Linked DNA regions of Homo sapiens. The protein of the gene in region 3 interacts with the protein of the main gene of each other region in a biochemical or structural test. Each region holds a gene or a part of one and is shown on either strand. Other genes may lie near its edges. The genes, in order: UMOD, TLR4 and FCN1.

Evidence for each region.
Region 1: the proteins of FCN1 (region 3) and UMOD form a complex in vitro, tested with the Homo sapiens proteins (one study listed by IntAct).
Region 2: the proteins of FCN1 (region 3) and TLR4 form a complex in vitro, tested with the Homo sapiens proteins (one study listed by IntAct).

The regions. Positions count from the first base shown.
Region 1 is NC_000016.10:20,341,415-20,351,810, reverse strand, and holds part of UMOD (uromodulin isoform a preproprotein), read left to right. Parts: intron 1-632; exon of another isoform or gene 633-791; intron 792-971; 5' UTR 972-1,073; coding exon 1,074-1,161; intron 1,162-1,941; coding exon of another isoform or gene 1,942-2,040; intron 2,041-2,598; coding exon 2,599-3,375; intron 3,376-3,480; coding exon 3,481-3,588; intron 3,589-5,476; coding exon 5,477-5,685; intron 5,686-7,638; coding exon 7,639-7,787; coding exon of another isoform or gene 7,788-7,890; exon of another isoform or gene 7,891-8,440; intron 8,441-9,256; coding exon of another isoform or gene 9,257-9,397; intron 9,398-10,396.
Region 2 is NC_000009.12:117,697,813-117,708,441, reverse strand, and holds the start of TLR4 (toll-like receptor 4 isoform A precursor), read right to left. Parts: upstream 4,040-10,629; 5' UTR 3,970-4,039; coding exon 3,877-3,969; intron 244-3,876; exon of another isoform or gene 124-243; intron 1-123.
Region 3 is NC_000009.12:134,905,027-134,915,422, reverse strand, and holds part of FCN1 (ficolin-1 precursor), read left to right. Parts: intron 1-613; coding exon 614-667; intron 668-1,002; coding exon 1,003-1,038; intron 1,039-1,809; coding exon 1,810-1,842; intron 1,843-2,279; coding exon 2,280-2,407; intron 2,408-2,807; coding exon 2,808-2,937; intron 2,938-4,155; coding exon 4,156-4,290; intron 4,291-5,377; coding exon 5,378-5,625; 3' UTR 5,626-10,396.

The DNA.
Region 1 (10,396 bases), on a different chromosome or scaffold from region 3:
CCTGACCTTGTGATCCACCCCCTCAGTCTCCCAAAGTGTTGGGATTACAGGCATGAGCCACTGCACCTGGCAACATAAAATGTTTTTCTTTTAGTACATCATGGTCACGAAGATCTGGAAAACGTTGCTCTAGGACCCAATGCCTTTGAGCACATGAATGTCTTTGAACTGAGCCTGGCCCATCATAGATATTCAGTTTGTGAAAGCAACAATCTCCATTTCACAGACAAAAACGGAGACTTAGTAAACTGAAATACCCACATCACAGTGTTAGTGATCAGTAAAGCAGGGATTTGAACCTCAGGTGCAGGCTGCAGCTCCTACATACTTAACCAACATGCCACCCTATTTTGCTGCTATAAACACTGGGGTAATACTGGCATCCACCCTGGACTATTTTTCCAATTGGAAGAAATAGTAAGTGACCACTCCAGAAACATTTAAATGCATTGTGAAGGTTAATTACCTCTCAAGTTGCTCGTCTCAAGCCACTTCTTTACGATATGTGAGTTGCATGAAGGAGCAGACTGCCATGTTCATTGTTCTCCATGGTGACTAGCTCCCTGTTTGGCACAATGTAGCTACTCAATAGATGTTTGTTGAATGAATAAGTGATCCAGGCAAATTGAAAGTTTCCAGGCAGAGGATCAGTTAAAATCCAAAGCTGCCTTCAGTAAAGTGGTGAGTCCAGAACACTATTCCATCTGGCTACTTCCTGCTCCAAATGACTGAGTTCTTCAAAATGTGCAATGTGCTGAGAATTGGGGAGCCAAGACTGGGATGTTGGTGAGGTAAGGAGGGGGAGTACAAGGGGTAAAGTCCCAGCAAAACAAGGGCTGCAGTGTTATGCAATTTTTTAGTCCATATAAGTGACACCTCCTGGAGTTGTATACTATACAATCAAAGCACTCCTTCCAGCTGTGGGGAGGAGAGTTAGATCATGCATTTGTCCCATCCATCTCTGTTCACAGGACACCAGACATCAGAGACAGAGAGAAAAATTCAAAGGGCCAACCCGTCTTTCCTTTGGGCAGGTGCTATCTAGACCTGAAGTAGCGGGAAGAGCAGAAAGGATGGGGCAGCCATCTCTGACTTGGATGCTGATGGTGGTGGTGGCCTCTTGGTTCATCACAACTGCAGCCACTGACACCTCAGAAGCAAGTAAGTGAAAAGTGTGTGTGCGTTGTATATGTGTGTATGCACGTGTATGTGTGAATGTGTGGGGGAAGCAATGTAGCACCTGTCAGAGGTGATCTCAATCCTCCTATCGCACTTGAGACTTGCATTGTCTTCATTCTAAGTCCATTTCTTAGACTCAATATGCACAGGACTGACTTAGAAATTTTGCTAAAGTGCATATTCTGGTTCAGCAGATCTGCAGTAGGACCTGAGATGCTGAATTTTTAACAAGCTTCCAGGCGATGCTCATACTGGGGTCCCTGGAGTACACATTGAAAAGCAAGGGGCTAGAACATCTCTAAGGCCTGCAGGCCCTTTATTGGAAGTCAGAAACATACTCTATCACATAGGAGATTTGAACCCATGCAGGAGGATCCAAACACCTTCCCTTTCAACTTTAAGAGGTCATTCCATTGGGTTGAGATTTGCTGTCACCCCACTTTCATTTTCTCCCTGGAGTACGTTGGGGCACGATGAATACTATTGCGGTGTCCTGGTTAAAAGCACATATTTTGTGGTCCTGCCATCTGCGTTTTTATCCTGGTTCTACTTCTTACCAAAGGAGTAAGGGGCTTAATCCCTCTGAACCTCAGTCTCCTCATCTTTAAAATAAGGATACATAAAAAACTGACCTCACGAGGCCCTTGGGAAGTATTCAACAAGATAGTGAGTGAAAAGTGCACATCCTATTGCCTGGCATATAGTAATTGCTTAATAAACAACAGCTTCTTTTTTTTTTTAATGGTTATTTTTATTACGGAGGAACAAAGTACAACTGCCCAGCCAGGTGGAGTTGGAGGACTCCGCAGAGAGGAGGCGACACTGAGCAGGGTCCTGATGAAGATTTCACCAGCCAGGGAAGCAGAAAACATAAAATGTGCAAAGAAAGGGAGGGGCAACAGGTTCACCGTAAATCCTACCAAAGTATAGGAATTCTGCGCATTACTTTTCTGAATGTGGCTATTTTAAAAGAAGACAGCTTGAAAGCAATGCTTAACACAAAAAATGAATGGTGGAGCTGGGCGCGATTGCACGTGCCTGTGGTCCCAACTTTTTGGGAAGCTGAGGCAGGGTGCGGTGGTGGCTTGAACTCAGGGAGTAGAACGCTTGAACCCAGGAATTGGAGGCTATGGTGAGCTATGATCGCACTACTGCACTCCAGCCTGGGCGACAGAGCAAGACCCCTCTCCAAAAAAATAAATAAAGTTAAAAAATACAATGAAATAAACACAGAATGAACGGTGGAGGCTTGACATCATCAGAGGAGTTTTGTTTCTTTGCTTCTTTCCTTGTTTTGGAGGGAGCCCTCTAGGGAATAAGTCTTAAAAATAATGAGTTCCCTGGAGAATGAGGGAAGGATCTCTGGGTGGCCATGGGCCCAGCTGCCCAAACCCTGAAGCTGGGCTTTTCTGTCCACAGGATGGTGCTCTGAATGTCACAGCAATGCCACCTGCACGGAGGATGAGGCCGTTACGACGTGCACCTGTCAGGAGGGCTTCACCGGCGATGGCCTGACCTGCGTGGACCTGGATGAGTGCGCCATTCCTGGAGCTCACAACTGCTCCGCCAACAGCAGCTGCGTAAACACGCCAGGCTCCTTCTCCTGCGTCTGCCCCGAAGGCTTCCGCCTGTCGCCCGGTCTCGGCTGCACAGACGTGGATGAGTGCGCTGAGCCTGGGCTTAGCCACTGCCACGCCCTGGCCACATGTGTCAATGTGGTGGGCAGCTACTTGTGCGTATGCCCCGCGGGCTACCGGGGGGATGGATGGCACTGTGAGTGCTCCCCGGGCTCCTGCGGGCCGGGGTTGGACTGCGTGCCCGAGGGCGACGCGCTCGTGTGCGCGGATCCGTGCCAGGCGCACCGCACCCTGGACGAGTACTGGCGCAGCACCGAGTACGGGGAGGGCTACGCCTGCGACACGGACCTGCGCGGCTGGTACCGCTTCGTGGGCCAGGGCGGTGCGCGCATGGCCGAGACCTGCGTGCCAGTCCTGCGCTGCAACACGGCCGCCCCCATGTGGCTCAATGGCACGCATCCGTCCAGCGACGAGGGCATCGTGAGCCGCAAGGCCTGCGCGCACTGGAGCGGCCACTGCTGCCTGTGGGATGCGTCCGTCCAGGTGAAGGCCTGTGCCGGCGGCTACTACGTCTACAACCTGACAGCGCCCCCCGAGTGTCACCTGGCGTACTGCACAGGTCAGCCGGAGTCTCCCCACAGTCCTCATCCCAGGCCTGGAAAGGCACTGCAGAGGACGGGGGTGCGTCCTTATTGATTGTCTGTCTGTCCCTGTGACCCTGCAGACCCCAGCTCCGTGGAGGGGACGTGTGAGGAGTGCAGTATAGACGAGGACTGCAAATCGAATAATGGCAGATGGCACTGCCAGTGCAAACAGGACTTCAACATCACTGGTGAGGCCAGTGGGGAGGAAGCGGGTTGTTGAGAAACCTGTCACTGCCTGGGGGAGGGACACATTCCTCCCCTGTGAGATTGGGGCCATATGGGTATGACGCAGGGGATATATATCCAACCTGAGTGAAAACAGAAGATCCACTAATACCCATTAAAGCCGGCAAGAGGCTCTCTGAGGCTCCCTGAGTCTCCCTTTAGTTGACTTCAAAGCTGCCAAAGATTTGGGGACCTCCTCGCACCCAGCCTTCTTTCTGAGGCCCACACCACAGTGGGCACCCACGTTGCTGCCATCTGGGAGCCAAAGACCATCTGAGCCCTATTCCTGCAGCACCAGAACACAAGCCCGGCCCGGTGAGCAGTCCACCAATCAGCTCAGGCCTGATGACCAGTCCACCAATCAGCTCAGTACTCCGGGCCAGGCACAAGCCTCAGATTTCTCATAGGTACAATTATTGAAGATGAAAATAGTATTTTCAGACTTCAGTCATGATTTTAGTTACATCCAAGTGCCAACTTTACAATTGGCACCCTGGTTCACTTGCTTTATCCAAGTGTTACCTGTGCCATGACTTTTATTAAGTTGTTTTTCTTCTAATGGACTGAATCTCTTAAGCAAATTTGGAATGTTGATGGTCAGGACTTCATCTGTCTGTGGCAAGTTATGCTTACCTTAGACAGAAAGTTAACTGTAAAAATAAAAGTTACTAAAAAGAAAAGAAGGTTACTAAATTTCAGCAGTTGTGTAATACTTCCATAAAACAAATTTTAAAAAATAAATACTAAAAATTAGAAAAATACTTCAATTTTTAAAAAATTAAACAAGAATTCTGGCTGGATGTTGTTTCCTGCCCCAAACTCTCAGCCCGAGGCCTGCTCTCTGTTTGAGAGGGAAGTTAGTGGGCCGGGCGCAGTGGCTCATGCCTGTAATCCCAGCACTTTGGGAGGCCGCAGCGGGCAGATCACCTGAGGTCAGGAGTTCAAGACCAGCCTGGCCAACATGGCAAAATCCCATCTCTACTAAAAATACAAAAACTAGGTGAGTCTGGTGGCAGGTGCCTGTAATTCCAGCTACTCGGGAGGCTGAGGCAGGAGAATCACTTGAACCCAGGATGCGGAGGTTGCAGTGAGCCAAGATGGCACCTCTGCATTCCAGCCTGGGCTTGTCGCCGAAGAGAGAAACTCCGTCTCAAAAAAAAGAGAGAGAGAGGGAAGTTAGTGAGTACATGGCATTAAAGACATTAGTGGCAAGCTGGGACTGTCTCCTTGATGTGAAAAGGGTAGAAAGTAATTGCAGCTTGCTTGCTTTTTCTTTCTTTCTTTCTTTCTTTCTTTCTTTCTCTCTTTCTTTTTTTTATTATACTTCACGTTCTAGGGTACATGTGCACAACGTGCAGGTTTGTTACATATGTATACATATGTAACTTGCATCATCTCCTTTGGCTACTATTACTACTGTGGGAGATGCGTATTCTCATTTTATAGACAAGGAAATTGACCTCTGGACCTCAAGTAATCTGTCTGCCTTGGCCTCCCAAAGTGCTAGGATTATAGGCATGAGCCACCGCATCTAGCCTTTTTATTTTTTTAAACGAGTATTCATTGTTATTTAATGCTGGGACATCAAAACCCCCCAAAACCGTCCTGCATTTGGTATATAACCCACATTTAGGGGAACCCAAGACTGAGTGGTTGGTCAGTGGATGTATCCATTGATGTCAGAGGTCCAATCTTGAGTCCCCATCACATTGGGAGGGGACAGATCAGCTCAAGGCTATGCTGAGCACTTCCAGATGGTGGTCAGCCCAGCCAGCTGGACCTGGCCCCTGGGGATGTGCTGGGCCCCCAAGCTATAGACACACGTCCTCAATCCCACCTAACCTGTTTCAGATATCTCCCTCCTGGAGCACAGGCTGGAATGTGGGGCCAATGACATGAAGGTGTCGCTGGGCAAGTGCCAGCTGAAGAGTCTGGGCTTCGACAAGGTCTTCATGTACCTGAGTGACAGCCGGTGCTCGGGCTTCAATGACAGAGACAACCGGGACTGGGTGTCTGTAGTGACCCCAGCCCGGGATGGCCCCTGTGGGACAGTGTTGACGGTACGTCCTGGCCAGTGGGGGACAGAACCAGAGCACTGCCTGGTTCAAGCTTCAGCTCTATCACTTCCTAGTTATAGAAGCTTTGGGGAGTTATTTAGCCTGGCTGTGCCTCAGTTTCATCAACTGTAAAGTGGAGAAATAATAGTACCTACTCCACAGGTGTATTGAGAGGATTGAATGAGTTAATGTGTTGAAGTGATTAGGACAGTGACTGCACACAGTAAGTGCTCAATAAACATCAGCTTCAAATAAAGAAAGCAATTCATGGTGATAGTTCTCCATTTTACAGATGGGAAAAGTAGGGCCATAGTAGGGATTGTCTCAGCCAGTAGGCATCAGCATTGGGTTCAGAAACTAGTCTATTTGTCTCCAGTGGTCCTGGAAGGCAAGGTCTGTATCCTTAATGTACAGAGAATCAGGACCTCACCTACAGAGGCCTCCTCAAATGAAACCCAGAGGTAAATGTTTGTGTGAGCAGAGCATTATCTCCTGCCACCTCCCTCATTACCAGAGGAAGAAAGAAAGAGAAAGAGAGGAAGAAAGAAAGAGAAGGAAGGAAAGAAAGAAAGAAAGAGAAAAAGAGAGAGAGGGAAGGAAGGAAGGAAGGAAGGAAGGAAGGAAGGGAGGGAGGGAGGGAGGGAGGGAAGGAAGGAAGGAAGGAAGGAAAGAAAGGAAGAAAGGAAGAAAGAAAGAAAGAGAAAGAAAGAAAGAAAGAAAGAAAGAAAAAAAAAGAAAAGAAAGGAAGGAAGGAAGAAAGGAAGAAAGAAGGAAAGAAGAAAGAAAGAAAGAAAGAAAAAGAAAGATTTAATGTTGGCCGGGCATGGTGGCTCACGCCTGTAATCCCAGCACTTTGGGGGGCCGAGGCGGGTGGATAACTTGAGGTCAGGAGTTTGAGACCAGCCTGGCCAACACAGAGAAACCCCTTCTCTACTAAAAATACAAAAATTTGCTGGACCTGTTGGTGGGCACCTGTAATCCCAGCTACTCGGGAGGCTGAGGCAGGAGAATCACTTGAACCCAGGAAGCAGAGGTTGCAGTGAGCCGAGATTGCACCACTGCACTCCAGCCTGGGTGACAGAGTGAGACTCTGTCCCAAAACAAACAAACAAAAAGAAATAATTCATGTCATTTTCCAAGGATGGCATTTGAAATTCCATTGATGGTGACTTGGCATATGGTTTTCAGTTTTCAAGAGAGGAAGCACGGGGTGCTGAAAACAGTCTAGTCTTGTGAGATGTCACATATTGTGGGCAATCCCTCAGTGACTCTGTTACTATGAATCTCTGTCTTCTTGTCTGGGAAGCAGGGATGTGGCAGCGCCACTTGTTAGGGTCACTGAAGGAACTAATGCTATGACTCAGGAGGGGTATTCCACTCGGGGTCTGGCACATGACATATGCGCATGAATGGTCATTGCTGTTGTAACTTTTTTTTTCTAATTTATAAAGAAAAGATGATTAATTGGCTCGTTGTTCAGGCTGCACAGGGAGTTTTTAACTGTTGTGGGATTTTTTTTTTTTTTTTTGAGATGGAATCTCCCTGTCGCCGAGGCTAAAGTGCAGTGGCACGATCTTGGCTCATTGCAAGCTCTGCCTCCCGGGTTCAAGCGATTCTCCTGTCTCAGCCTCCCGAGTAGTTGGGATTACAGGCACCCACCACCACGCCCGGCTACTTTTTGTATTTTTAGTAGAGACAGGGTTTCACCATATTGGACAGGCTGGTCTCGAACTCCTGACCTCAGGTGATCCGCCTGCCTCGGCCTCCCAAAGTGCTGGGATTACAAGCGTGAGCTAATGCGCCCGGCCACAGGCAGCTTTTTATCAAGGAGACTAGGAGAGCGGCTCACAAGTAGCCAGACATGAGACCAGCAGATTTAGCTTTGAAGTCCTACTCAGATTCTCATGCCCCTTTCTCTCATCCCCACCCCCCCTCCACCCCCATTCCCTGCAACAGAGGAATGAAACCCATGCCACTTACAGCAACACCCTCTACCTGGCAGATGAGATCATCATCCGTGACCTCAACATCAAAATCAACTTTGCATGCTCCTACCCCCTGGACATGAAAGTCAGCCTGAAGACCGCCCTACAGCCAATGGTCAGGTGTGGCCAGAGAGGGTCCCTAGGGCCCCTAGATGGTTCTAACCCCAAACCCCTTAACCATGAGCTTCCCTGTCAACTGCCACCCACAGGGAGCTGGGAGTGAGGGCTGGGAATCAGGGTTGCCCAATGGAAGAGCCAGGAATTCTGGAGCCCAGGTTCAAATCTAGACTTTGTCATAAATGATGGTTATGCCCTGGCCAGTGGGGGACAGAGTCAAAGCACTGCCTGGTTCAAGCCCCAGCTCTGTCACTTACTAGTTGTATGAGCTTGAGTGAGTTATTAAGCCTGGCTTTGGGAAATTGATAGTCCCTCTCTAGGTGTCAATATTTTCATCTGTGAAATGGGTTTAATAGTACTCTAAGAATTAAATGATATGGGAGGATCGCTTGAGCCCAGGAATTTGAGGCTGCTTAGAGCTATGATTGTGATGTGAATCAGATTCAACCATTAAACTGATGTAGATGATTCAGATGTGAATCAAATATTAAAGTCTCTACTTTTCAAAGAGGCAGGGTGGTTGTGCCAGAGAGCAGGAATGGTCTCAGTCCAGACTGCTATGGAATGCTGGGCAAATCATATTTCATATTTGGACCTCAACTTCTTTCCTTCTCTGTGAATGAAAGGAATTTGATTAAAGAGGATTTTAAAAATTACGCTCCTTGCAAGTGTCTTGGTAGGGGCCAAGGGAGGTGCCCTGGCAGAGTGCCTACAGGGGTAAACTATTCATACTGGGTGCCACGTAGTATTTTATTTTATTTTTTTTAAAAGGAATCTGTTGCTAAATAAAATTGAAAATCTTCAAATAGGATGAATCACAGGCCAATGATGGAAAATTATAGTTGTAATAAGAAATAAGATTTATTGATTATTTATTTATTTATTTATTTATTTATTGAGACGGAGTCTCGTACTGTCGCCCAGGCTGGAGTTCAATGGCATGATCTTGGCTCACTTCAACCTCCGCCTCCCAGGTTCCAGTGATTCTCCTGCCTCAGCCTCCCAAGCAGCTAGGATTATAGGTGCCCACCACCACACCCAGCTAAGTTTTGTATTTTTAGTAGAGACGGGGTTTCACCATGTTGGCCAGGCTGGTCTCAAACTCCTGACCTCAGGCAATCCACCCACCTCGGCCTCCCAAAGTGCTGGGATTATAGGTGTGAGCCACCGTGCCCTGCCAAGAACTAAGATTTATTGAGAGCTTACTATATCTCAGGCATTATAGCCAGTGTTCTGCCTGGAACATCTCATCAAACTCTTACAGCAGCCCTAGGAGATAAAGGTATCATTATTATTACTATTCCCATTATACTGATGTGGAAATTGAGGCTCACAGAAGTTTGAGTGACTTACCCAAAGCTGTAAAGTCTAGCAAGTGATAGAGCTGGGATTCAGACATCAGGTCCAGAGCCTCCACTTGACCATGACCTTCCCTTCGAAGCTTGCCCATGGTTTTCTGCTCTCTTGGCCAGCCAGACTCAGGAAAGGATGCTGGGCACTGATGAGGGTGCACAGCTGACTTGGAGGAAGAAGAGTGCTCATTGCAAGCTGTTGGCTGGAACCTCACCTGGCCTAGCAGTGTCCTGGAGCAATGTGGCCCCGTCCTCGGCCTGGTAGGCTCTGGGGAACAACAAGTGTGCCCACATCTCTCTGTTTTATGGTTTTGTTTTGTTACGAATCCAGGTCTCACTCTGTCACCCAGGCTGGAGTGCAGTGGCACAATCATAGCTCAATGCAGCCTCAAATTCCTGGTCTCAAGCAATCCTCCCACCTCAGTCTCCCAGGTGGCTAGGACTACAGACACATGCCACCACACCACCCTGGGCTATTTTTAAAAATATTTTTATAGAGACAGGGTCTTGTTACATGGACCAGGCTAGTCTTAAACTCCTGGCCTCAAATGATCCTCCTGCGTATGCCTCCTAAAGTATTGGGATTACAGGCGTGAGCCACAGCACCTGGTCCCTCTCTCTGTCTCGAGTTAGACATCTCACCCCAGTCTTCACTGATAACTCAGTTCTCATCTGTAAAATGGACTTCCACATTTCGGAGTATTTCTCATGTGCCTTATTTCATGAGGCATCAGCCTTACAATGTCCTTTGTTGGATCATCCAGTGAAGTTCACATCAGTGTGGCTGTTTTCAGTGTGGTTAAAAATAACTCATTTATAAACCTCAATCTTCTGATATAGATGTTAGTACATCACGATGGAGGCCAGGACGCAAGTTGTAGGCCTCATCATAGCTCAATACCTTTTAACCTGTTCTAGATTGAGACCAAAGAAGGAATCCAGGTGTTCCTGTCAATAATTTGTTTTTTTGCCATCTTGAAAGCTACAGGGGTAGCAAAGCCTATAGCAGTAGCAAGTGAGGGACTGGATGTGTTACTTGAGATGTGATTGATCCATAGACCAGCAGCATCAGCAGCATCCAGGCACTTGTCAGAAATGCAGGACCTTGAGCCCCACCCCAATACTCACCAAATCAGAGCCTGCATTTTATCTAGATCCCAAGTTGACCTGCGTGTACTTATTGCGGTTTGCAAAGCAACAGTTGGTGGGTTCCACTCTTATTGCTGGATAAAAATGCAAATAACTGCAAGGGACTGCCTA
Region 2 (10,629 bases), about 17 Mb from region 3:
TCATCCATCTGTCCATCCTTCCATCCATATATCCATCCATCCATTCACTCAATTCATGCTTATAAATTGTCTTACTCTAGATTAGAAAGTAAAGAGCACCTACTACGTGCTCAGCATTCTAACCTCCGTGATAAAACGGCAGCATTTAGCAAGAAGCAATGGAATCGGGGTGAAGGGCTGAGGCTCCGGAGTCTGAAAGCTCTGGGTTTCATGCCAGCTCTTCTGTGTGGTTTAGGGCCAAGTCTTTAAAAACAAAACAAAATAAAACGAACAAAAGAAAAACCTCAGTGAGCCTCATTTTATCATATGTAAAATGTAGGTAATAAAATATCCAATATCGTGCTTGCTGCAGTAGCACATACACTAAAATTGGAAGGATACAGAGAAGATGAGCATGGCCCCTGCACAAGGATGACACACAAATCCATGATGCGTTCCATATTTTCATGATCTATGCAGCAAATCACCATGGCACACATTTACTTATGTAATAAACCTGCATGCTCTGCACATGTGCCTCTGAACTTAAAAGTTGAAAATACAAAAAATAAATAAAATATCCAGTATCATTTTAAATACTCCATATCATTGGGGAGACTGTCTGGCAGTCAAGATGTCCAGACCTTCCTTAGTCATGGCCCAGATTTTGACAACTGCATTCTTTTTCTTGGCTCATTGACCCTTGAGCAAAGTGATGTAGAAATAGGGGGAAATCTTTAGAGTGCATGGATTCCCATGGTGGAACCTAGTAAATAAGGTCAAGTGCTTTATGCTGTCTTTGTTTTTACACTGCTTTCTAGCCTACTTTCCCACATTCTTTGTAAGCCTAATTCTCTAACGCTCCCATCTAATTTCTGAATGCTCTCATTTCCTCCAACAAAATTCCTTGCAGAAGCCAGCTAATTGTAGTTTTCTGTTGTTTGAAACCAATAGAATGTTTGAAGGATTAAATGAGATAAGGTGTTTAAAGAGTTTATTTAAAAGCCCGCTACAGTATAAGTGATCAATAGATGTCAACATTAATTATTATCATCTATCATTAATCCCTTACCATATGCCTGCATAGTTCTTGTTTGTTATATACTTTCACTTAATCTTCAAATAAGCATTTAAAGATGAGGAAAATGGAAATTCAAAGAAATGAAGTAATATGCGCAAAGTCAGAGTTCAAACATGCAGATCTTCATTCGTATGTCTGCTTAAATGTTGCAAGCCATGGAGCCTCAAAGACAATATTGTCTAATAGAAACAGTGCCAGGCACTCTTTCTTTGCCCTCTTTTATTCCCTTTCACGGGAAGCACAACCATCTAACATTATGTTGTCTATCTGATTGTTCTCATCGTATTGTTCATCTCCTGTATTCCATTGCAAGTTTGATGGGTTTGCCCACTGCTTTGTCTCCAGCACTCAGAATGGTGTCTGGCAAATGGTTGGTGCTCAATAAATATTTGCTGAATCACTAACTGATTGAATAACTGATTAAATGAAGGTTTACTTAAGTCCAAATTGTAGGCATTTCCTGCCAAGTGCTGTGGGCATTACAAAGAAAAATATGATGCAGCTCCAGACTTCAATGGACTCACAGTCTAGAGTAAGAGTTTAGATAGGAGCAAAGCTAACACTATCTCAAGGGGCCATAAAATAGGCTTAGAAAATATGCCCTGTGGTTCAGAGAAAGCAGAGATCAAGTCTGGATTCAGGAAAGGCTTCCCAGAAAAGGAAGATTTTAAAGTGGGTCTTGGAAGATGAGTAAGGTTTAGATATGTGGAAAGGGGAAGAAAAACATGTCCTAAGGAGAGGACAACGTGAGCACGTAAAGAGTGGAAAACAAACTCAGATTAGCTGGTGAGTGGTGGGAGTGGTGAAATCTAAGTAAGAGGGCAAGCCAGATCAGGAGGGCCTCAGACTTTGTCCTGCAGCAATTATTTCAATCATTTATCACTTACACATCTAGCGGCTACTGTGTGCTGGCCACTGGAAATATAGTGGTAAATAAAACCAGCAATGATCCTGCCTCCTTACCGATTCCATTACAAAGGGAGAGAGAGAAAATAAACAAACAAAAATATAAAATGTTGTGCTCTAGAAAAAAAAATATTAAGCAGTATAAGGGGATTTGAGGCAAATAAGTGAGGCTGGAGAGCTCTACATGGGGCAATCAAGGAAGACTGCCCTGAGGAGGGGACATTTAATCAGAGATCTGAATGGAGTGATTAAAGCATGAAAAGGACTTGGGCTGCACTGACCAATACGGTAGTCACTAGCCATACACAGTTATCAAACACAAGAAATGTGAATAGTGTAAATTGAGAAGTGTGGTAAATGTAAAACATATACTAAATTCCAGACTTAGTACCAAACAAGGAATGTAAAAATATCAATAATAGGTAAATATATATTAAAATTTTAAACATTATTTTAAATACGCTAAGTTAAATAAAACTATTATCGAAATTAAATTCACTTGTTTCTTTTTTTAATGAGGCTACTAAAAACTTTAAAAGTACATATGTGGCTCACATAATATTGCCAATGGATAGCACTGATCTAGCATTCTAGGTAGAAGAAATAGCCAGTGCAAAGGCCCTGTGGTAGAAAGCTGTTCTAATGGCAATGGAGAGTTATTAAAAGTTTTTAAGGAGAGTAATTTGTTAGATTGAAGCCTAAGGAAAAATAATAACAACAAATGCAAGTACATAACAAACAAGAACGTGCAGAATGAATTAAAGGAAGAAGACTGGAATCAGGAAAGCAGTTAGTGTGTAAGAGTCAATGCCAGGGGAAATGAGGGCCTGCCTTACAGTGGAACTAAGGGGATGGGCAGGGATGGACAGGCTTCAGGGACTGACAGGAAAAGGTACATGGGGAAAAGAAGTCAAGTTTGGCTGTGGTTTTATCTCGCAGTGAGCCTAATTAGAAAATCTATCTCCATTAACCTAACAGCAGAGGGATACAGAGAAGAGGACAAGGAGGAGGACTATGGGCAGGGAATTGAGGGAAGGGATGGCTTCAAGATAATGAATTAGTCTTTGCTAAATATTACTTGATTTTCTCCTATATCCTCAACTTCAGGACTGCAGCTGGCTTTTTCTCTCTTGAGTTTCTGACCCTGCCTCACTGTAAATCATTTTCTTAGCTGTTCGGCTCTACTATGGGTTTCTAAAGCAACTGTGAAGTCTGCGCAGGGGAAAAACAAAAGAGATCCATCATGAATAAGATTACCAACCAGCTGATTGGTATTTCACTAAGAAAGAAACTGTTGCATTAGCTGACATTATACATATTTCCCTCTTGCTTTTTTCTTCTCTCTCTCTCTCTTTTCCTTTTTCATTCTCTTATTTTTTTCATCCTCTGGACTAAACTATATTACTGCATACAGAAGTCTGACACCCACTTAGAAAGTTCTTTCTCTAGAGACACACACACAAAAGCCATCTTTTTCCTGAGATTGAAAGGAGCAGGGTGACTGCTTGAAGCTGAGTGTAAAGACCACCAGTGGGAAGAAATGACACTGAAGCAGTCTGCTTACTCTCTAGTGAAGAAGGTATTATAATTCTCTTACAGATGCGAAAACTAGTCTCAGACAGGTTTGATAATTTCTTCACAGAGCCACAAGGTAGCAGAGCAGGGACCTTAAGCAGATCTATGTTATCTCATGCCCCTGTTAGCACTCAAAATTTCCAAATGGAACAAACCCCCAATGGCTGCCTCTAGTGCCCTGTAACAATGAATTATTTGATCTCTGTGGCTTCTTGAGTCTTTAAGGTAATTTAACTCTTTTTTTTTTTTGCAAAAATAAACAAACCAGGGCACACAGTGAGAAGTTCTGGGCAGAAGTGAGGGAAAGTTCAGAGGAGCTGACTCCAGCCACATACCTCCACGCAGGGCTCCCAGCTTTCTGGTCTCACGCAGGAGAGGAAGGCCATGGCTGGGATCAGAGTCCCAGCCAGGCGCGAGGCAGACATCATCCTGGCATCATCCTCACTGCTTCTGTGAGCAGCAGTGGCCCTGTGAATGCGTGGCTCGCTATCACCGTCTGACCGAGCAGTTTCTGAGGCACTGGTGTCTTCTCTTCCTCGAGCCGCCCCACAGCAATTGGTGTATTCAAAGCAGTTCTGGGCTAAAGGGTGAGAGGAAGTGAAAGCGGCAACCTTAGCATTCTGGACTTTTGTTTCTCTAATAGTTATCTCTTTTGTCACAGGAGAGGAAGTTAGAAGAAGAAAACGCCTGCAGACCAGTGGCTAAAGAAACAGCAAGAGGAAGCTAGTTGGCTTTTATCCCAATTAGTCATCTGACCTCTGCCTGGGCTTGGTGAATTTAGGAAAACAATCAGGTTCTATTAAAATAGCCCTTGTAACTCTCTAGGATGACGGTGATTTTCCAATTTTGTTTCAGCTGTGGAAACACTATTTGTATTAGTTTGCTGGGGCTGCCATAAGGAAATACCACAGACTGGGTGGCTTAAACAACAGACATTCATTTTCTCACAATTCTAGAGGCTTCCAGTCTGAACTCAAGGTGTCAGCAAGTGTGTCTGAATTCTAATCTCCCCTTCTTATAAGGACACCAGTTATGTTGGATTAGGGCCCACCATAATGACCTCATTCTACCTTACATACCTCTTTCAAGGCTCTCTCTCCATATACAGTCATAGTCTGAGGTAGAGGGGTTAGGACTTCGATATGTAGGTTTTTGCAGGACACAATTTGGCCCGCCCCTTCTTGTGAAGAAACTCACATACAAAACTGAAAATAAACCTCAACTGAAACACAGTTTGAAAAGTACAAGAAGATTGGGAAAAGTCTGGGATTTCAGAATGGAATATACTGAAGTTCAGATCTCAGCTGGGTGACTCATGGCTTTGAGGCATTGGTCAAGTCATGTAAACCGCTAAGCTTTACTTTCTTTCTTTTCTTTTTTCATTTTCTGTATTATGGTAAAATCACATAACATAACATGACATAACATAAAATTTATTATCTTGACCATTTGTATGTGTACAATTTAGTGGCATTAATTATGTTCATATTTTTGTACAATCATCACCACTATTCATTAATAAATAACTCCCCATTTCCCCTTTCCCTAGGCCCTTGAATCTATGCACTACTTTTGTCTCTATAATCTTGACTACTCTAGGCAGCTCTTAGAAGTGGAATCATACAGTATGTATCTTTTTGTCACTGGCTTATTTCACTTTGCATAATGTCCTCAAGGTTCTTTTCTGTGTAGTATAGATCAAAGCCTCCTTCCTTTTTAAAGCTGAACAATATTCCATTGTATGTATAGACCACATTTTGCTTATCCATTTGTCTGTTCATGGACACTTGCATTGTTGCCACACGTTAGCTATTGTGAATAATGCTGCCATAAACATGGTTGTACAAATATCTCTTAAAGTCTCTGTTTTCAATTCTTTTGGATACGTACTCAGAAGTGAGATTGCTGGATCATGTGGTAAATCTATTTTTAATTTTTTGAGCACCCACCATATGATTCTCCACAGCATCTGTACCATTTTACATTCCCACAAATGGTGTACAGGAGTTCTCATTTTTTCACATCTTCACCAACACTTATTATTACTTTCTGGTCTGTAAAATGTGGTAATCACTTTTAATCATAGCAGAAGCTTGCATTTATAAAATGTATTAAAATAAAGATACGCAATGGTAGTCAAATTATACAAACCTACCAACCTTTAGTTTTCTGGTCTTTAAAACGAAGATAATCGCATGTGTTTTGAATTACTGAATTAAGCTAACTTACGTAAAACGTCTAGTCTAGAGCATCATCATTACATTCCATAAATGAGAGCTATGATGAGGATTGAAAATGTGGATAGAATGAAGATGATAATATGTATCTCAAAGTATTGTATTGGGATTAAATGAACTGGCATTTGTAAAGCTTTTAGGACAGTGTCTGGAAAGTAGCAAGTGCAATGTAAGTTTCTGTTAAATAAGAACCTGATTTAAAACAGGAATATTATGCATGCTAAGTCCTAGATAGTTCTACTGTAATATCCTCCAAGCACTTCCAATCCAACGTGTCAAAAACCAAGCTGTGAGGGACCATTTTGTGGTGGACTGGGCACAAACTCTTGTAGACTCCATCAACACACCAGTAGAGTTAAGATAAAAACAACCTCCATGTCAAAGCTTTGCTCTGAGTATTGAGATTATTCATGTAAAGATTTTAGAGCAGTGCCTGACACAGAGTAGGTGCTCAATAAAGTTTAGTTCCCTGGAAAGTTAATGGTGTTTCACTTTGACATAGTCATCCAAGGTGGAAATCTCTTTGACTTTATTTCCCTTACTTCCTCATTTCTCATGCTAAACATGTATTAACCCAATTGTCTTCTTTTCTGTGTTCTTGATGTTCTGGCATCTGGGAAGAGACTGCACTTACCAGGGCTAGTTAGTTCTAAAAAATAGCAAAAGATTTGCTCTGGAGCATGCCTTATGCACACTAAGCAATCCAGAGCCCTTCCTCTGAACCACCTCCTCTACCTGGCTTTTACACCCAAGTAGACACCGTTATTCAGCCCTAATCATCACAGGTCCAGGTACCAGACAACTAGAGACAGACCCTCTACCCCAGAGCCCACTGAGGTTATTCAAACTAGCCAGTCCTATCCCTGCTTACCCTGCCTTGCCTTGCCTTTTCTGCAGTAACAACAATAAAAGCTTGTGCCTATAATTTCCTCTTGCTCCCTCTGCCTCCTGACGGACTCTGGTGCTACCAATGTGGCCCTGCATGGTGTGGCATGCCCCCGCTTCTTAGGAACTGTAAACAACAAACTATATTTCCAGTGGCATCATCTTCTGATCTGTTGTTTTCACCATAGCCGAATAATAAAACCTACATTTTAAAAAATGTTCCACCAAGTTGTAGAAATTGTATCTGTAAAATAATTCCAAAATGTCAGTCGCCATTTCTACTACCATTACTATTGAACATATCCCACGGCCTAGACTAGTTCAATATACTTTAAGAAGCCTCCCAAAGTCTAGATTCACCTCTTTCAATGTACCAGCTCTTCCAATTGATTCTTCATCCTGCTGTTGAAAACATCTTTCTAAAATAGAAATACGTTTAACTCATGTCATGCTAATAATGATTTCAGGCTGGGTATTGCCTAGATAAAAAATCTCCTGGCCTACCCCCATCACATATACACATACAGAAACACTCCACTTCCTAAGAATGAGAAACAAATATGTGGGTCATTTCAAGCCAGACATAACTAGACCCCATTACTGGGACACAGTGCTTAAGTGAATAGAGTAATACAAGTGTGTAATAGACAAATGCACTTTCTTCCCATCATTTGGAGAGGAAACCGCTTGATAGTCTAGATGAGGAACTAAGGAAAAGGGCCCAGGGAAGTCCTTTCAACTATGTTTTCGGAGATGTTAATACATGTGTTTTATAGAAGTCTTCCTGGAAATTTTTCCTATGTGTGATTGGAGAATCCCTGGTGGTGACTTGTAAAGAGGTTTCCTTTTCCTGGGAAATGAATGGGATTAACACTCAATCATTTACTGACCTTAATCAAAGACATCTAGGTTCTATGTTGCTCTTCCAGAAGGCAGACCATGTGTCAAATACAAATTAGAAACTGTAAGCCCCTTGGTTATCAGATCTAACTTGCTTATGTTGATGAACTTACCGATGCAGTATTATAATGAGGTAAGACCGTGGTGATTAGTTACCATTAGGCCTATAATTTCTCCCACAGTAGAATAATAACCACCTCTTGTTTTCTTTTTTTTTACTTTTATTTTTACATTCAGAAGTACATGTGCAGGATGAGCAGGTTTGTTACATAGGTAAACGTGTGTCATGGGGGTTTGTTGTACATAATTAATCGCATCTTAAGCATAGTGGTAGAGATTTGGCCAGAGGCAAAACAAGCCACTTGATCGCCTACATCCTTCATGCAGAGCAAGTTCAACTCAGGACCCATAATCAGTCAGTCAATGGAGGAATCCCATATTTGCCAGGGACCTAGAAGTGTTTGCTTTTATTTGGCAGGTAATGCATATGCTGTAAGAAATATGCACAAAACTGACAAGTGTTAGACTAAGCTAATTGCTGTATAAACTTCCAGATTTTATTGTGACTTAATAAAAGTTTTCCTGGCTCATGAAACACTCAATGAGGATATTTCTGATTGGATTACCCCAGGTATGATTCCTGGTTCTAGGCTTCTTTTATTTCATTATACTTTCATATTCAACATGCAGCCTCCAAGTTTACTGCAGAATGTGAAGAAAGTAGGGGATGATATCATGTATTTAACTACCTCTGCTCAGAAGTGACATGCATTATCTCTGCTCTCATTGCATTTGACCAAAACTAGACCCAACACAATACCAAGTTGCAAGGGATCTCTATCTTCTAAGCTTCAAGGCTCTTCCCCCTACCCAAAACTTAAACACACACACACACTTAATGGTGAGCACCACTTCACAGCACCAATACTATACTGTGGAAGAGGAACACAAAATTCTGTTGATCAGCAGGTTGTATTTATGCCACAACCTTAGAATCCTATAATTTCCATTGCATAGTGATTTTAAAAAAGGTCCCATTAACCTGACATATCTAAAAACCAAACCTCATTCCATCCAACCATCTCAAGTTTTTAAGTTTCATGTTTTTTTCATGTCAACACCTCTCAAAGCAGAATGGTTCTCATATAATTGACAATATAGTACAATTATAATTGGCAGAGTTTTTTTTCTTTCTTAGTGGCAAATAAAGTAATGGTACACCTTATAATCAGTGGTACCTTATATACAACAACAGTTTGTTACTAGGAAGAAAAAAAAGCTCTGTTCAGGTAAGTAAAAGAAACAAATAGTTAAACAGAGAAAAACAGATTTATTTTCTAAGGACTCCTTAGAACATGTATTAGACTAATGTTTATTTTGCATCTATGAAAGGAGATAGAGTACTCAATGTTTCCCAACTTTTTGACCCATTCAACCCTCTTTTATCCTTGGACACCCATTACCAGTCCAGAATCCATTAATGTGCCATGGACCAATGCTCTTGTGGTATATAGTACAGAAAATGGTGCTTTTAAGCAAAGGCATAAAGGGTATTCTCTTGGCTCCAGGTGACTTAATTCCTGTCTCTATGGTGAGGTCTTCACATTAAGTACTGCCCTGTGCATCTCATTATTTTCCTCCCAAACACCCTGTACATTTCAGTATGTTCTTCACAAGTACAAGAGGTGAGTGAGTGCACCCTCACAGGTAATCAGCCTACATAGTGCCATCTCCTCCCCAGACCAAAATGTCTATGACCTTTCCTGTGTTATTTTTTAAATTACTTTGAATTTCTCATCTCTTTATTATCTGCCTCTACCAGTAGAATACAAACTCCATGAGAATGGAGGCCTGGTATGATGCTCACAGTTATTAAATGCATGGGTAGATACATAGTTAAGTAGTTGATGAATACATCTCTGAACAATATATCTGTATTTATTTTTAACATGTAGTGAGTATCTTAGAGTATTTGTCACCTTTGCATATTGAGCAATGTGACTATCTTACTAGAGGTCTATTGATTATTCTGGGGCTTCTCTTATACTTTTCTACATCCCTATATTACATTGAGATTCATGTACCCTAGTTCAAGCAACAGAGAAGGACAGAGTCATAGCAAGTGGATTTGAAAGGAAGTCTTGTTGCAGTAAACACTATGTTTTTTCCTGAGGTAGAAAAATCCTTTTTGTCTATTTATTCATGAATAAATAGGCAAAGGATGGTTCATTGCAGGCAAGAGGGTTTTCCCTCTTTGTTCTGACTCCCAGTTTGGCCAGTGAATCCAAGCTTATTCATTCATACCGTGGAAGAGCATGGTGTAATATAGAAAAGGTGTACTAGCCCATTCTCACACCTCAATGAAGAAATACCCAAGACTTGGTAGTTTATTTAAAAACAAAACAAAACAAAACAACAACAACAACAAAAAAGAGGTTTAATTGACTCACTGTTCTGCAAGGCTGGGGAGGCCTCAGGAAACTTACAATCATGGTGGAAGGGGAAGCAGACATGTCCTTCTTCACATGGTAGCAGGAAGGAGAGGTGCAAGCAGAGGAAATGCCTGGCACTTATAAAACCATCAGATCTCATGAGAACTCACTCACAATAATGAGAACAGCAGCATGGGGGTAACTGCCCCCATGATTCAATTACCTCCCACCAGGTCCCTCCCACGATATACGTGGCGATTATGGCAACTACAATTCAAGATGAGATTTGGGTTGGGGCACAGCCAAACCAAATCTGAAGGCTATACTTTAAAATATTTCATTATCCTTTTTACTTTCTGGCATCATCATTTTTTGTGGGTGTCACTAATTTTTAACATCATTGAGTTTCCTTAAACCATACAACAAAAATAACACTATGGCCTAATTAATAATATTATCTGAGGGGTAAATGAGATCTTGTGTGTGGATGTATTTGTAAATGTTACAACTTTACACAAATGTTGACCATAATTCATTCATTTATTTATACACCAAATATGTATGGATGGTTAACATTTTGCCAGGCACTGTTCTGGGCAGAAGACTACAACAGTGAAGAAAGCAGTCCCTCTCA
Region 3 (10,396 bases):
TATACCCTAAAGCAAGAACCAGCCCCCATACACTCTCCCCAGCCACTGGGGTCAGCGAGCGGGCTGGGGGCTGCCTCTTGGCTGGCATCGGGGACGGGAGGGTCACCTTTCTGGCCAGAACCACGTGGAGCGCTGTGTGACACCCCAGGAGCTCAGGCGCACGGTGGAACCGGATCCTCCCTGGCAGCAGCGGCTGCACGTGGCGCCCACCCTCTCCGTGTGGGGACGTGGTAGGATGAGGCTCTCTGAGGACGCATTCTTTGTTCCAGAACCTGGTCCCTTGCTAGGCAGTAGAGCTCTGTGTGGGTGACTTGGGTCCAGGCTTATGGTCAACAGAGTGTGAAACCCAGGTTGCTCCCAAGGCACAAACAGGAGCAAGGTGCACCTTGCCTTGAGCCCAAGGTGGGGTGCAGGCCCCTCCCTCAATCCCTCACCTCCATCTGCAGTCACCCCCAGGCTAAATCCATGGCTAGCAATTCTGAGAGCTCCTGGAACCAGAAGGGGTTCAAGGCAGAGTGGGGGAGGGTCAGGACTTAACCACTTGGGGCAAAGATTTCCAGGGAGAATTGTTTAGGTTGCATTTTTCTCAGTGATATGTCTTTGGAATTTTCAGGAGAACGCGGTCTCCCTGGAGCCCCTGGAAAGGCAGGACCAGTGGGGCCCAAAGGTAACCAGGGGACAGACAGCGAGGAGGCCTTGAGCAGGGACCTTGGAGCTGTCTGTAATGAAATGAGGGAGGGAGAGACAGAGACAGAGACACAGACACAGACACAGAGAGACACGGCAACAGAGAGAGAAAGACAGTGGCAGGCGGACAGGGACCCTGGGATATTCCAGGCCTCGGGGCCCCTCCCCACCATTGAGACCTGGGCGTTGTGATGCCTTAGTGAGCCTGCAGGGCTGGGGAGATGCAGTGTCCAGGCCGGGAGCCCACTCTGGACCAGCCTTTCCGTGGCCCACACATCTGGGGTCAAAAGCTCATTATCCTGCCTCTTCCTCCAGGAGACCGAGGAGAGAAGGGGATGCGTGGAGAGAAAGGTGAGCCACCCGTGGGCCCAGGCAGTTGTCTCTGCAGGCTTTGTCCAGGGGAGGGGTCTCAGAGGCCTCAGTCCGCCTGCCCACCGCCCACGTCCCTGTCAATCCAGGCTGTGGGCAGGGAGGGGTGGAAGGAGTCCAGCGGGCTTTGTTGTCAGAATCCACGAGGGCTCAAACCCTGGTGTCTACAGCAGTCACTCCCAGTGGCCAGCAGGACCACATCAGTGCATAGATGGTGACACTTCAATATTTCAATTTCTGTCTTACTTATGCTCATTTATGCAAAAATTGTAAAAGTTTAAAAAAGCCAAATGTGCAAGACTCTAATACACTGTACCACGCTCCACCCACAAACACAAATGAAAACCGGAGCCGGGGGCTGAGGGTCCGCCGATACCTGAGTCCCAAGAAACAGAGGCCAGGGCGGAGGCAGGGCAGGCTTGGAGTGACCCTGCCAGGCTTGAAGAGTTATTCCGCTGTTATCAGTGGCGAAGGCCCCACTAGGGGTCCAGTTCGTCCAGCAGGACCCGCAGCGCCTGCCACAGCCCACCAAGCTCAAGCTGCACAGCAGGGGCCTATGGACAACCATGTGGCTGGTGCCTCTGGGGAAGTCGAGTCTGGCCATCCTTCCCTAGGCCTGTGCCACGTGTCCTGGAGACATCAGAGGAGCTGCCTTTGCCCATTCTCTATTCTGTGCTCAGGGAGCCACTGGGGCTGACCAGGACAAAGGCTCTGATTTCAAGCTTATGACAAGTGTCTCCTCTCCCCACACAGGAGACGCTGGGCAGTCTCAGTCGTGTGCGACAGGTGACTGATCACACCCTGACCTCGGTACCCAAGCCTTGCCCCCACCCCTGGGGCCAGCTGCACACGTTCACGCTACGGAATCTAAGGACAGAACCCTGTCTGCACCTATCATCCCCCCCTCAATCACTCGAGTAATGGGCAGCTATCACCTGAATCCCTTCCATGACAACCTGGGCTCTACTATTATCTACCCTAGAAGGCCGGGTGCCCAGGAGGCAAAGGTGGGGCAGACACTGGGAGGTGGGAGGGTCGGCAGACTGGGTGTGGGCATCACAGCTGCGTGGCCCTGGGGGCCGTGTCCCTGTCCAGGCCTCGGAGTCCTGCTCGGTCCGCACAGAAGCCTGTGGCCCTCCTCCTCCCTCCTGGGCCTCCCTCCCACTGCCCCTGTCCTGCCCAGGGCCCCCGTCCTGCAGCCATTCCCCGGGTTCCCTTCCCAGGCCCACGCAACTGCAAGGACCTGCTAGACCGGGGGTATTTCCTGAGCGGCTGGCACACCATCTACCTGCCCGACTGCCGGCCCCTGACTGTGCTCTGTGACATGGACACGGACGGAGGGGGCTGGACCGTGAGTGTGGGGCTGGGCAGAGGCGGTCAGCCTGGGAGTCCCGGAGGCCAGGCTGCACACCTGGTTGTAGAACACACTCTGGAATTCTCTATTCCCCTGGATGGGGACAATCATAGATGATGGGGGAAGTGACCCGTGGGTAAAAGTCCAGGCCATCGGGGAGGCTGGGAGGGGACCGGTGCTCTCCTGCTGTGTGGCTTGGGGCTTGTTGCCTCTCTTCTCTGAGACCGCATTTCCTCTTTCATCCTGTGGAGTCTGTGAGGAGACCAGATGGGCGTGCGTGTGGCACCGGCCTGTGATGCTCTGCCAACTACAAATGCTGCTCCTCTGGAGGGCGGGTCCCCGGTGCTGTGGGACCTCGGCCTGCCCCGCCTAACTCTGTATCCTGGCTTCTTCACAGGTTTTCCAGCGGAGGATGGATGGCTCTGTGGACTTCTATCGGGACTGGGCCGCATACAAGCAGGGCTTCGGCAGTCAGCTGGGGGAGTTCTGGCTGGGGAATGACAACATCCACGCCCTGACTGCCCAGGGTAGGGCCACTGCCGTGGCTCAGGGGTTGGGGGGCCCTGAGGTGCTCCTGCCCCTTAGGCCTGGGCCATCTGCAACATAAGCACCTCTTGGCCCACAGGGGATTGGGCCCTGAGCACACTCAGGTGGCACTGGGACCTCTAAGGGCTGCGTCCCCTGCCGCAGGCTCTGGCAACATCGGGAAGGGAAACGGTTAGAGCCCTGGGCTGAAGGCCTCTTCAGGTCTTGGTCCTACTGGCATCTTAGATCCTGAGAGTGGGAAGCAGGAGAGAGACCACTGGGGCTTGGGGTAGCCTTCCCCCATCTCCAGCTGTTGATCTGCCTCTGAAGCTGGCATCTTAGTCCCATGGAGAGCCCACGCTCGCCTCCTCCAGCCCACGCCTCAGCAGGCCCCCCACAGCCGCACTCACCTGAGTGAGAGGGCCTCCCCCCAACCCTCTGGGGCAGGGGATGAGTTTCACAGCTGGTCCTGAGGCAGTCTGTATAATTGCTGGTCCATTATCCCTGCCCACTGCCCTGTGGCATGATTGAAGGAATCCACTCAGGTGCCTCAAATTCCTGCAAAAGAAACTACAATTAGAGCTTCGCCCACTGCTGTGTTAGTGGCTCACCAACCCTTAGAAGGAGAAGGTACACTTTCAAAATGAAAGAATGCTCCCTTCCACCCAGTGAACTCCAGTGGGGCATGTTCAGTTCTCTGAAATAACGGGAAAGGTGTTTAGAAACAGAAAGCCATCCCTGAGGGCCTGATAGCAACAAGGGATTTTCTGACATTTCCGGTTGATTTTTTTCCTGGATGCCACGTTCAGACATCCCTTAAGAATATATCCATCCCCAGCCGGGCACCGTGGCTCACACCTGTAATCCCAGCATTTTGGGAGGCTGAGGCTGGTGGATCATGAGGTGAAGAGATCGAGACCATCCTGACCAACATGGTGAAACCCCATCTCTACTAAAAATACAAAAAAAAAAAAAAGTAGCTGTGTGTGGTGGCACACACCTGTAATCCCAGCTACTGGGGAGGCTGAGGCAGGAGAATTGCTTGAACCCAGGAGGCGGAGGTTGCAGTGAGCTGAGATGGTGCCATTGCACTCCAGCCTGGGCAACAAGAGCGGAACTCTGTCTCAAAAAAAAAAAAAAAAAAATTACCCATCCCCAGCCCTCATGCCTGGTGACAGAAAGATCTTAAAGGCTGGGGCCTTAAAATCTTTTTCCAACAGGAAGCAGCGAGCTCCGTGTAGACCTGGTGGACTTTGAGGGCAACCACCAGTTTGCTAAGTACAAATCATTCAAGGTGGCTGACGAGGCAGAGAAGTACAAGCTGGTACTGGGAGCCTTTGTCGGGGGCAGTGCGGGTGAGTGTCTGCTTGGGGCTGGTGGCCTGAGTGGGGCTTGGAAAGCAGAGAGAACCTGGCTCTGTCTCCCCTGGTGACCTTGGGCCCTCCTCTCTCTGAATCCCATTTCTCCATCTATGAAGCAGACACTAGCATTTGTGTCTCTGTACAGCGTGGGGCTCACAGGACATAGCGGCTGGTATTCCTAAGGCTATGTCTGCCGCACAGTGAGCTGCCTGGGCAGGGCTGAGACGACCCACCAGCATCACTGCTGAAACCTGGAAGACGTCGTCCTTTTCTCATGGGTGCCTTGGAGCTGTTTCCCAAACTGTGCTCCATGGAACACCAGCCTTGTGGGACATTCTTTACCAAAAGGAGTCTCTGGCTACACGATCTGGGGAGGCATTTCCTACAGGGCGTCTGCTTAGGGAATTCCCAGTGCACATCGTTCGTGAAAGGCACTGAGAATTGCTGCAGCTGGAAGTCTGTGTAACTAACTGCTCCATGGAGCAAGGCAGTCCCAGGGGAGCCTTGGAAATGACAGCCTTGGAGTCTGTGCAGTCCTTTCACAGGCACGATCTCACGCATGACCTCCAAGGAAGGCAGCAGGGCAGGGAAGGTCACCCCCATTTTGCAGGTGGTAAAACCGAGGCTCAGGGGGTGACATTTCTCAGCTATAGGAGCCAGGGATGAGCTTCCGGCTCAGGGCTTGAGATAGAGGAGAAGCCCCCAGGTGAGGGCTGTCCTGAACCTACCAAGGGCCACCAGGGGACGTGGGGAGAGACCGGAAGGAGCGGCGCAGGCTGGAGGAGGGAGGTCATTCCAGGAGAGAGCAGGAGGCCTGACAGTTTGCGGGAGCCCTGGAGGAAACAGGTGGTTGCTGGAGCAGGGGCCTCAGGTTGTGGAGAGAGATTTCCAGACCAGGTTGCCAGAGGTTGCCTCCTGCTTCCCCTTCCTCCAAGGCCTGGGTGGGTCATTTGTGCACCTGTAGCTCGGCTCATGCGTCGCTAAAGTGAGGTTGGCTCTGCTCAGAGGCAGGATGTGGTGAGGGTCTCACAGTGGCAGGGCTTTTTCCAGCATCTGCAAACCCCACATTTTCTGTGAGCAGGTAATTCTCTAACGGGCCACAACAACAACTTCTTCTCCACCAAAGACCAAGACAATGATGTGAGTTCTTCGAATTGTGCTGAGAAGTTCCAAGGAGCCTGGTGGTACGCCGACTGTCATGCTTCAAACCTCAATGGTCTCTACCTCATGGGACCCCATGAGAGCTATGCCAATGGTATCAACTGGAGTGCGGCGAAGGGGTACAAATATAGCTACAAGGTGTCAGAGATGAAGGTGCGGCCCGCCTAGACGGGCCAGGACCCCTCCACATGCACCTGCTAGTGGGGAGGCCACACCCACAAGCGCTGCGTCGTGGAAGTCACCCCATTTCCCCAGCCAGACACACTCCCATGACGCCCACAGCTGCCCCTTTGCCCCCAGCTCAGTCAAGCCGCCACATGCCCACAACCTCACCAGAGGGAGAATTATGTTTCTAAATATGTTTACTTTGGGACAGAAAAGTTTTACCAGTTTCAATGTGTGTTTCTTGAACACCAGTGGTTTTGATCACTTTCCTGTGTCTGTTGCACGGCAGGTCTTTCCCTGGAATTTGGTAAGTCGGGAAGAGTCAGGACCCTTATTTAGCAGATGGCACTACCGATGTTCAGGGAGGTTGAGTGACTTTTGCGAGGATTTTCCACCTCCAGTAATTGACACAGGGCGATCCTCACCTCCACCCCCAAGCCTCCCCCATCCCCCCATGCCTCACTCACAACACTTCACACTTCTTGAAAAAGGTCACTTTGGGGTCCAGAAAACACTTACTAAAAAGGGGGAAAGTTTAGTAGGAACTTTTCTGCTTCCCACCACGGCAGAGTTCATGCTTTGGGCTGGCTGGCTGCTGGGAAGAGATAAACACTTAGCACTCACTAAGTGAGCGCCTGGTCAGCCACCTGCACAGAGAAGATTCCGAAGAGGCCTTCCTCCCACACACAGACCTCAGCTAGAGGGGACCGCGGACCTCAGTGGGAAAAGCTGCACAAGGCTTCTAGGAGATGATGGAGAAGGGGCTTCTCCAGCTCCCAGGCCAGGGGAGATTTCTCAACCACGACCTAAGAAGCATCAAAGGGAATGTGGCAAGTGTGACTCCATTCAAATCAAGAGCTCCCACTTACCGAAGGACACTAAGGGAACCAAAGGAAGGCCAGAGGGGCAGAATCAACGTGCGGCACACAAATCTTTAGTTTTCTACTATTGCCGCAACCAGTCACCACAAATGGAGTGGCTTGAAACAACAAGAACTCGCCACCTCCTGGCTCAGTAGATCTGGAGTCCCTGGGCCTTACTGGGCCAGCAGGCAGGACTCAGCAGTGGTGGCTCCTTCCAGGGTTCTAGGGGAGAACCTGCTTCCTTGCCTTTTCCAGCCCCAGGGGTCACTGGCATTCATTGGCCCGGACTCCTTCCCCCAACCCCAAAGCCAGCAGCACCACATCTCTCTGACCCTTCATCCGTTGTCCCCTCTCCCCCCAAGCCCCATGGGACAGGGTCTCCACTCCTGAGACTCATGGGATTAGACTAGGCCTACCTGGATGATCTGGGATCCTCTCCCATGTCCAGGTCTCTATCCCTAACCACATCAGCAAAGTCTCTTTTGCCATGGAAGGTATTTGCAGGCTCTGACTTTGTGTGTATTAGGGCAGGACATTTTTGGCGGGGCAGTGGTGGGGGCAGGGAATTATTCTGCCTACCATGCCTTATACAAAAATAAATAAATCACAGGCTTATACCTGAAAGAATTCCTGCAAATAATAAAAGAATTAGAGCAGCTCAGTTAAATAAAAAAAGGTATGAGATGTGAACAGACACTTCACAGAAGATGACATGCAGGGGAGCAAGGTATTTATCAAAAAGTGCTCCACTTTTCACTTACCAGAGAAATGCAAATCAGCACCCAAAGGAGTCACTGCGGCACCCTCATCTGAGCCTCAGAAGTTAGAAAGATGGATAGCACCAGTGTCAAAGGTGACTGTGGGAGGGAGATTTGCATACACTGCTAGTAACAATGCGAATTGATGGAACCAACCTGGAAAATGGCTTGGCATCAACTGTTGGAGAAGAAGACACACAGTCCTCTAACCTGCCAGTCCCACATCAGGGCCTGGATATGGCCGTCATGTGTACCAGGGAGCATGGCCAGGAATCTTTACAGCCAAATACTCACCATAGCACCAAACTGGAATCAGCCGACATACCCATCAGGAAGAGAATGGATGTTAAAAAATGCAAGGATAGCCATTGGGTAGAACGCCATACAGCCATGACAATTACACAGTGACACCTACACACAAGGAGCATGAGTCTCACAAACATGGCAGCAAAAGGAGCCTGTTCAAGAGGGTATGTGCTATGGATTCCATTGTAGATAAAGTTTTTCAAAAGCAAAAGTAGCCAATGGTATTTTGGATGCATATTTAGGTGGTAAATGTATACAGGAAAAATAAGAAAGTGATTGTATTTGAGGGTGGGACCACATGGTGACTGGGAAGGGACAGGGACAAGCCTCTGGGGTTCTGGCAATGCTCTGTTTCTTGACCCAGGTGGTGATTGTAAGGATGTTTGTTAACTAGTGATGAAAATAATTAAGCTGTACTTTTGCTTTATACACTTTTGAGTACATGTTATGTTCCACAATTTAAAAACTACTTATAAAGAAACTGCACATGCTTGGATCCAGGAACATGAGCTACAGGCACATCCTCCACTGATGCCCAGTGTTCTTGACTCAATACCTGTAAGGAGAGGTCCTTGTAGCCCATTGGGGGCTGACCAGACCCTACTACGCCCCTGCCACAATCTCTAGTCCATCACAAAATCCACTATTGGGATAGTACTTTCGTCCCTCAGTAGGTAAGCATTTTTACAACCTAGGAAGACTTAGCTTTAAGTCTAGAAATGATTAGTATAAATATAAAATATAAATATGATTAATATAAATATAAAATAGCCATAGAAATATGCCTTTTAGTTTGTTTTTTGAGACAGAGTTTTACTCTGCCACCCAGGCTGGAGTGCAGTGGCGTGATCTCAGCTCACTGCAATCTCCACCTCCCAGGTTCAAGAGATTCTCATGCTTCAGCCTCCCAAGTAGCTGGGATCACAGGCACACACAACCATGCCCAGCAATTTTTTTGTATTTTTAGTAGAGATGGGGTTTCGCCGTGTTGGCCAGGCTGGTCTTGAACTCCCGACCTCAAGTGATCCACCCGCCTCTGCCTCCCAAATTGCTGAGATTACAGGCGTGAGACACTGTGCCTGGCCAAAATATGCCTTTTGTATTAAGGAATCTGGACAGGTTTGATTTTTCACAGTCTTGTAATGTTTAAATAATTTGGCCTATTATGAAGAATCTCACAAATCCAATATAAAATGTGGAACTAACTAATCAAAATCATCTTGTAATATTACATGGAAATCTTAGTGCGTTTATACACGGTATTGGCATATTTAAGAGACTTTGAGCTCATTGCATTTCTAAGTTAAATTATTAGATTTCTTAAGATTTAAGTTAAATTATTAGATTTTTAAAGATTAATTAGTGCTAAGGAGGGTTTTCTCATTAGACAGCTGAAATGCCGCAGGAGAAATTTGAGTGTATTCCACTTCTTATTGCAATTTTAAATGTTTGAAGTTATTTAAAGAACTAAATTTATGGTATCCAAAAGCTCTAAAAAGGTGACTCTTAAGATTTGCAGGTCTTATAAATAGAAAAACAAGAACTGTAAGCCAAACTTAAAATATTCAGGATGAATTGAGTTTTTGAATTTGTAGCTTTCAGAAACTGAACATTAATTTTAAGAAGCAAAGCAGGCTGGGCACAGTGGCTCACGCCTGTAATCCTAGCACTTTAGGAGGCTGAAGTGGGTGGATCACTTGAGATCAGGAGTTCAAGACCAGCCTGGCCAACATGATGAAACCTCCTCTCTACTAAAAATACAAAACTCCGCCAGAAATCGCTTGATCCCGGGAGGTGGAGGTTGCAGTGAGCTGAGATCGTGCCACTGCACTCCAGCCTGGGGAACAGAGCGAGATTCCGCCTCAAAAAAAAAATAAAAATAAAAAGAAGAAGAAGAAGAAGGAGAAAGAGGGAGAGGGAGAGGGAGAGGGAGAGGGAGAGGGAGAGGGAGAAGAAGAAGAAGAAGAAGAAGAAGAAGAAGAAGAAGAAGAAGAAGAAGAAGAAGAAGAGGAAGAGGAAGAGGAAGAGGAAGAGGAAGAGGAAGAGGAAGAAGAAGAAGAAGAGGAAGAAGAAGAAGAAGCAGCAGCAGCGGCCAGGCGCGGTGGCTCACGCTTGTAATCCCAGCACTTTGGGAGGCCGAGGCGGGCGGATCACAAGGTCAGGAGATCAAGACCATCCTGGCTAACATGATGAAACCCCGTCTCTACTAAAAATACAAAAAAATTAGCCGTTCATGGTGGGGGATGCCTATCGTCCCAGCTACTCGAGAAGCTGAGGCAGGAGAATGGCGTGAACCCAGGAGGCAGAGGTTGAAGTGAGCCGAGATCGCACCACTGCACTCCAGCCTGGGCGACAGAGCGAGACTCTGTCTCAAAATAAAAGAAGCAAAGCAAGCTTATGAAGAGATGAAGAGTCTTTTCCCATCACCAATTCCTCCCCAACTCACATCAGCAGAACTGAGAGAGCTTTTGTGATTTGAGGGATAAAGCTGAATGGGTGAAAAGAAATCAAGCCCTCCTCCTCTTGGGCCAGTGCTCTTCTTCCTGGCCATGGGACCTCTCAAGTAGGAGTGTAGGCGTGGGCCCATCCAGCAACATTTGGGCATTCGTGGACATCCACATAGTGTTGTTTCTGTTCTTTTCCTCTCCTTCCTCATCTTCTCTCGTCTTTGTTGAATATTTTTATTATCCCGTCACCTCCTCTATCAGCTTATAACTTGTTCATTCTTTTCCTATCTTTTGGTGTTTATGCTTGCGATTGCAATATATAGCCTTGATTTTTTACGGTATACTATAAATTATTCCTTCTACCACTTTACCAATGAAGACTTTGAAACACCTCTAACTA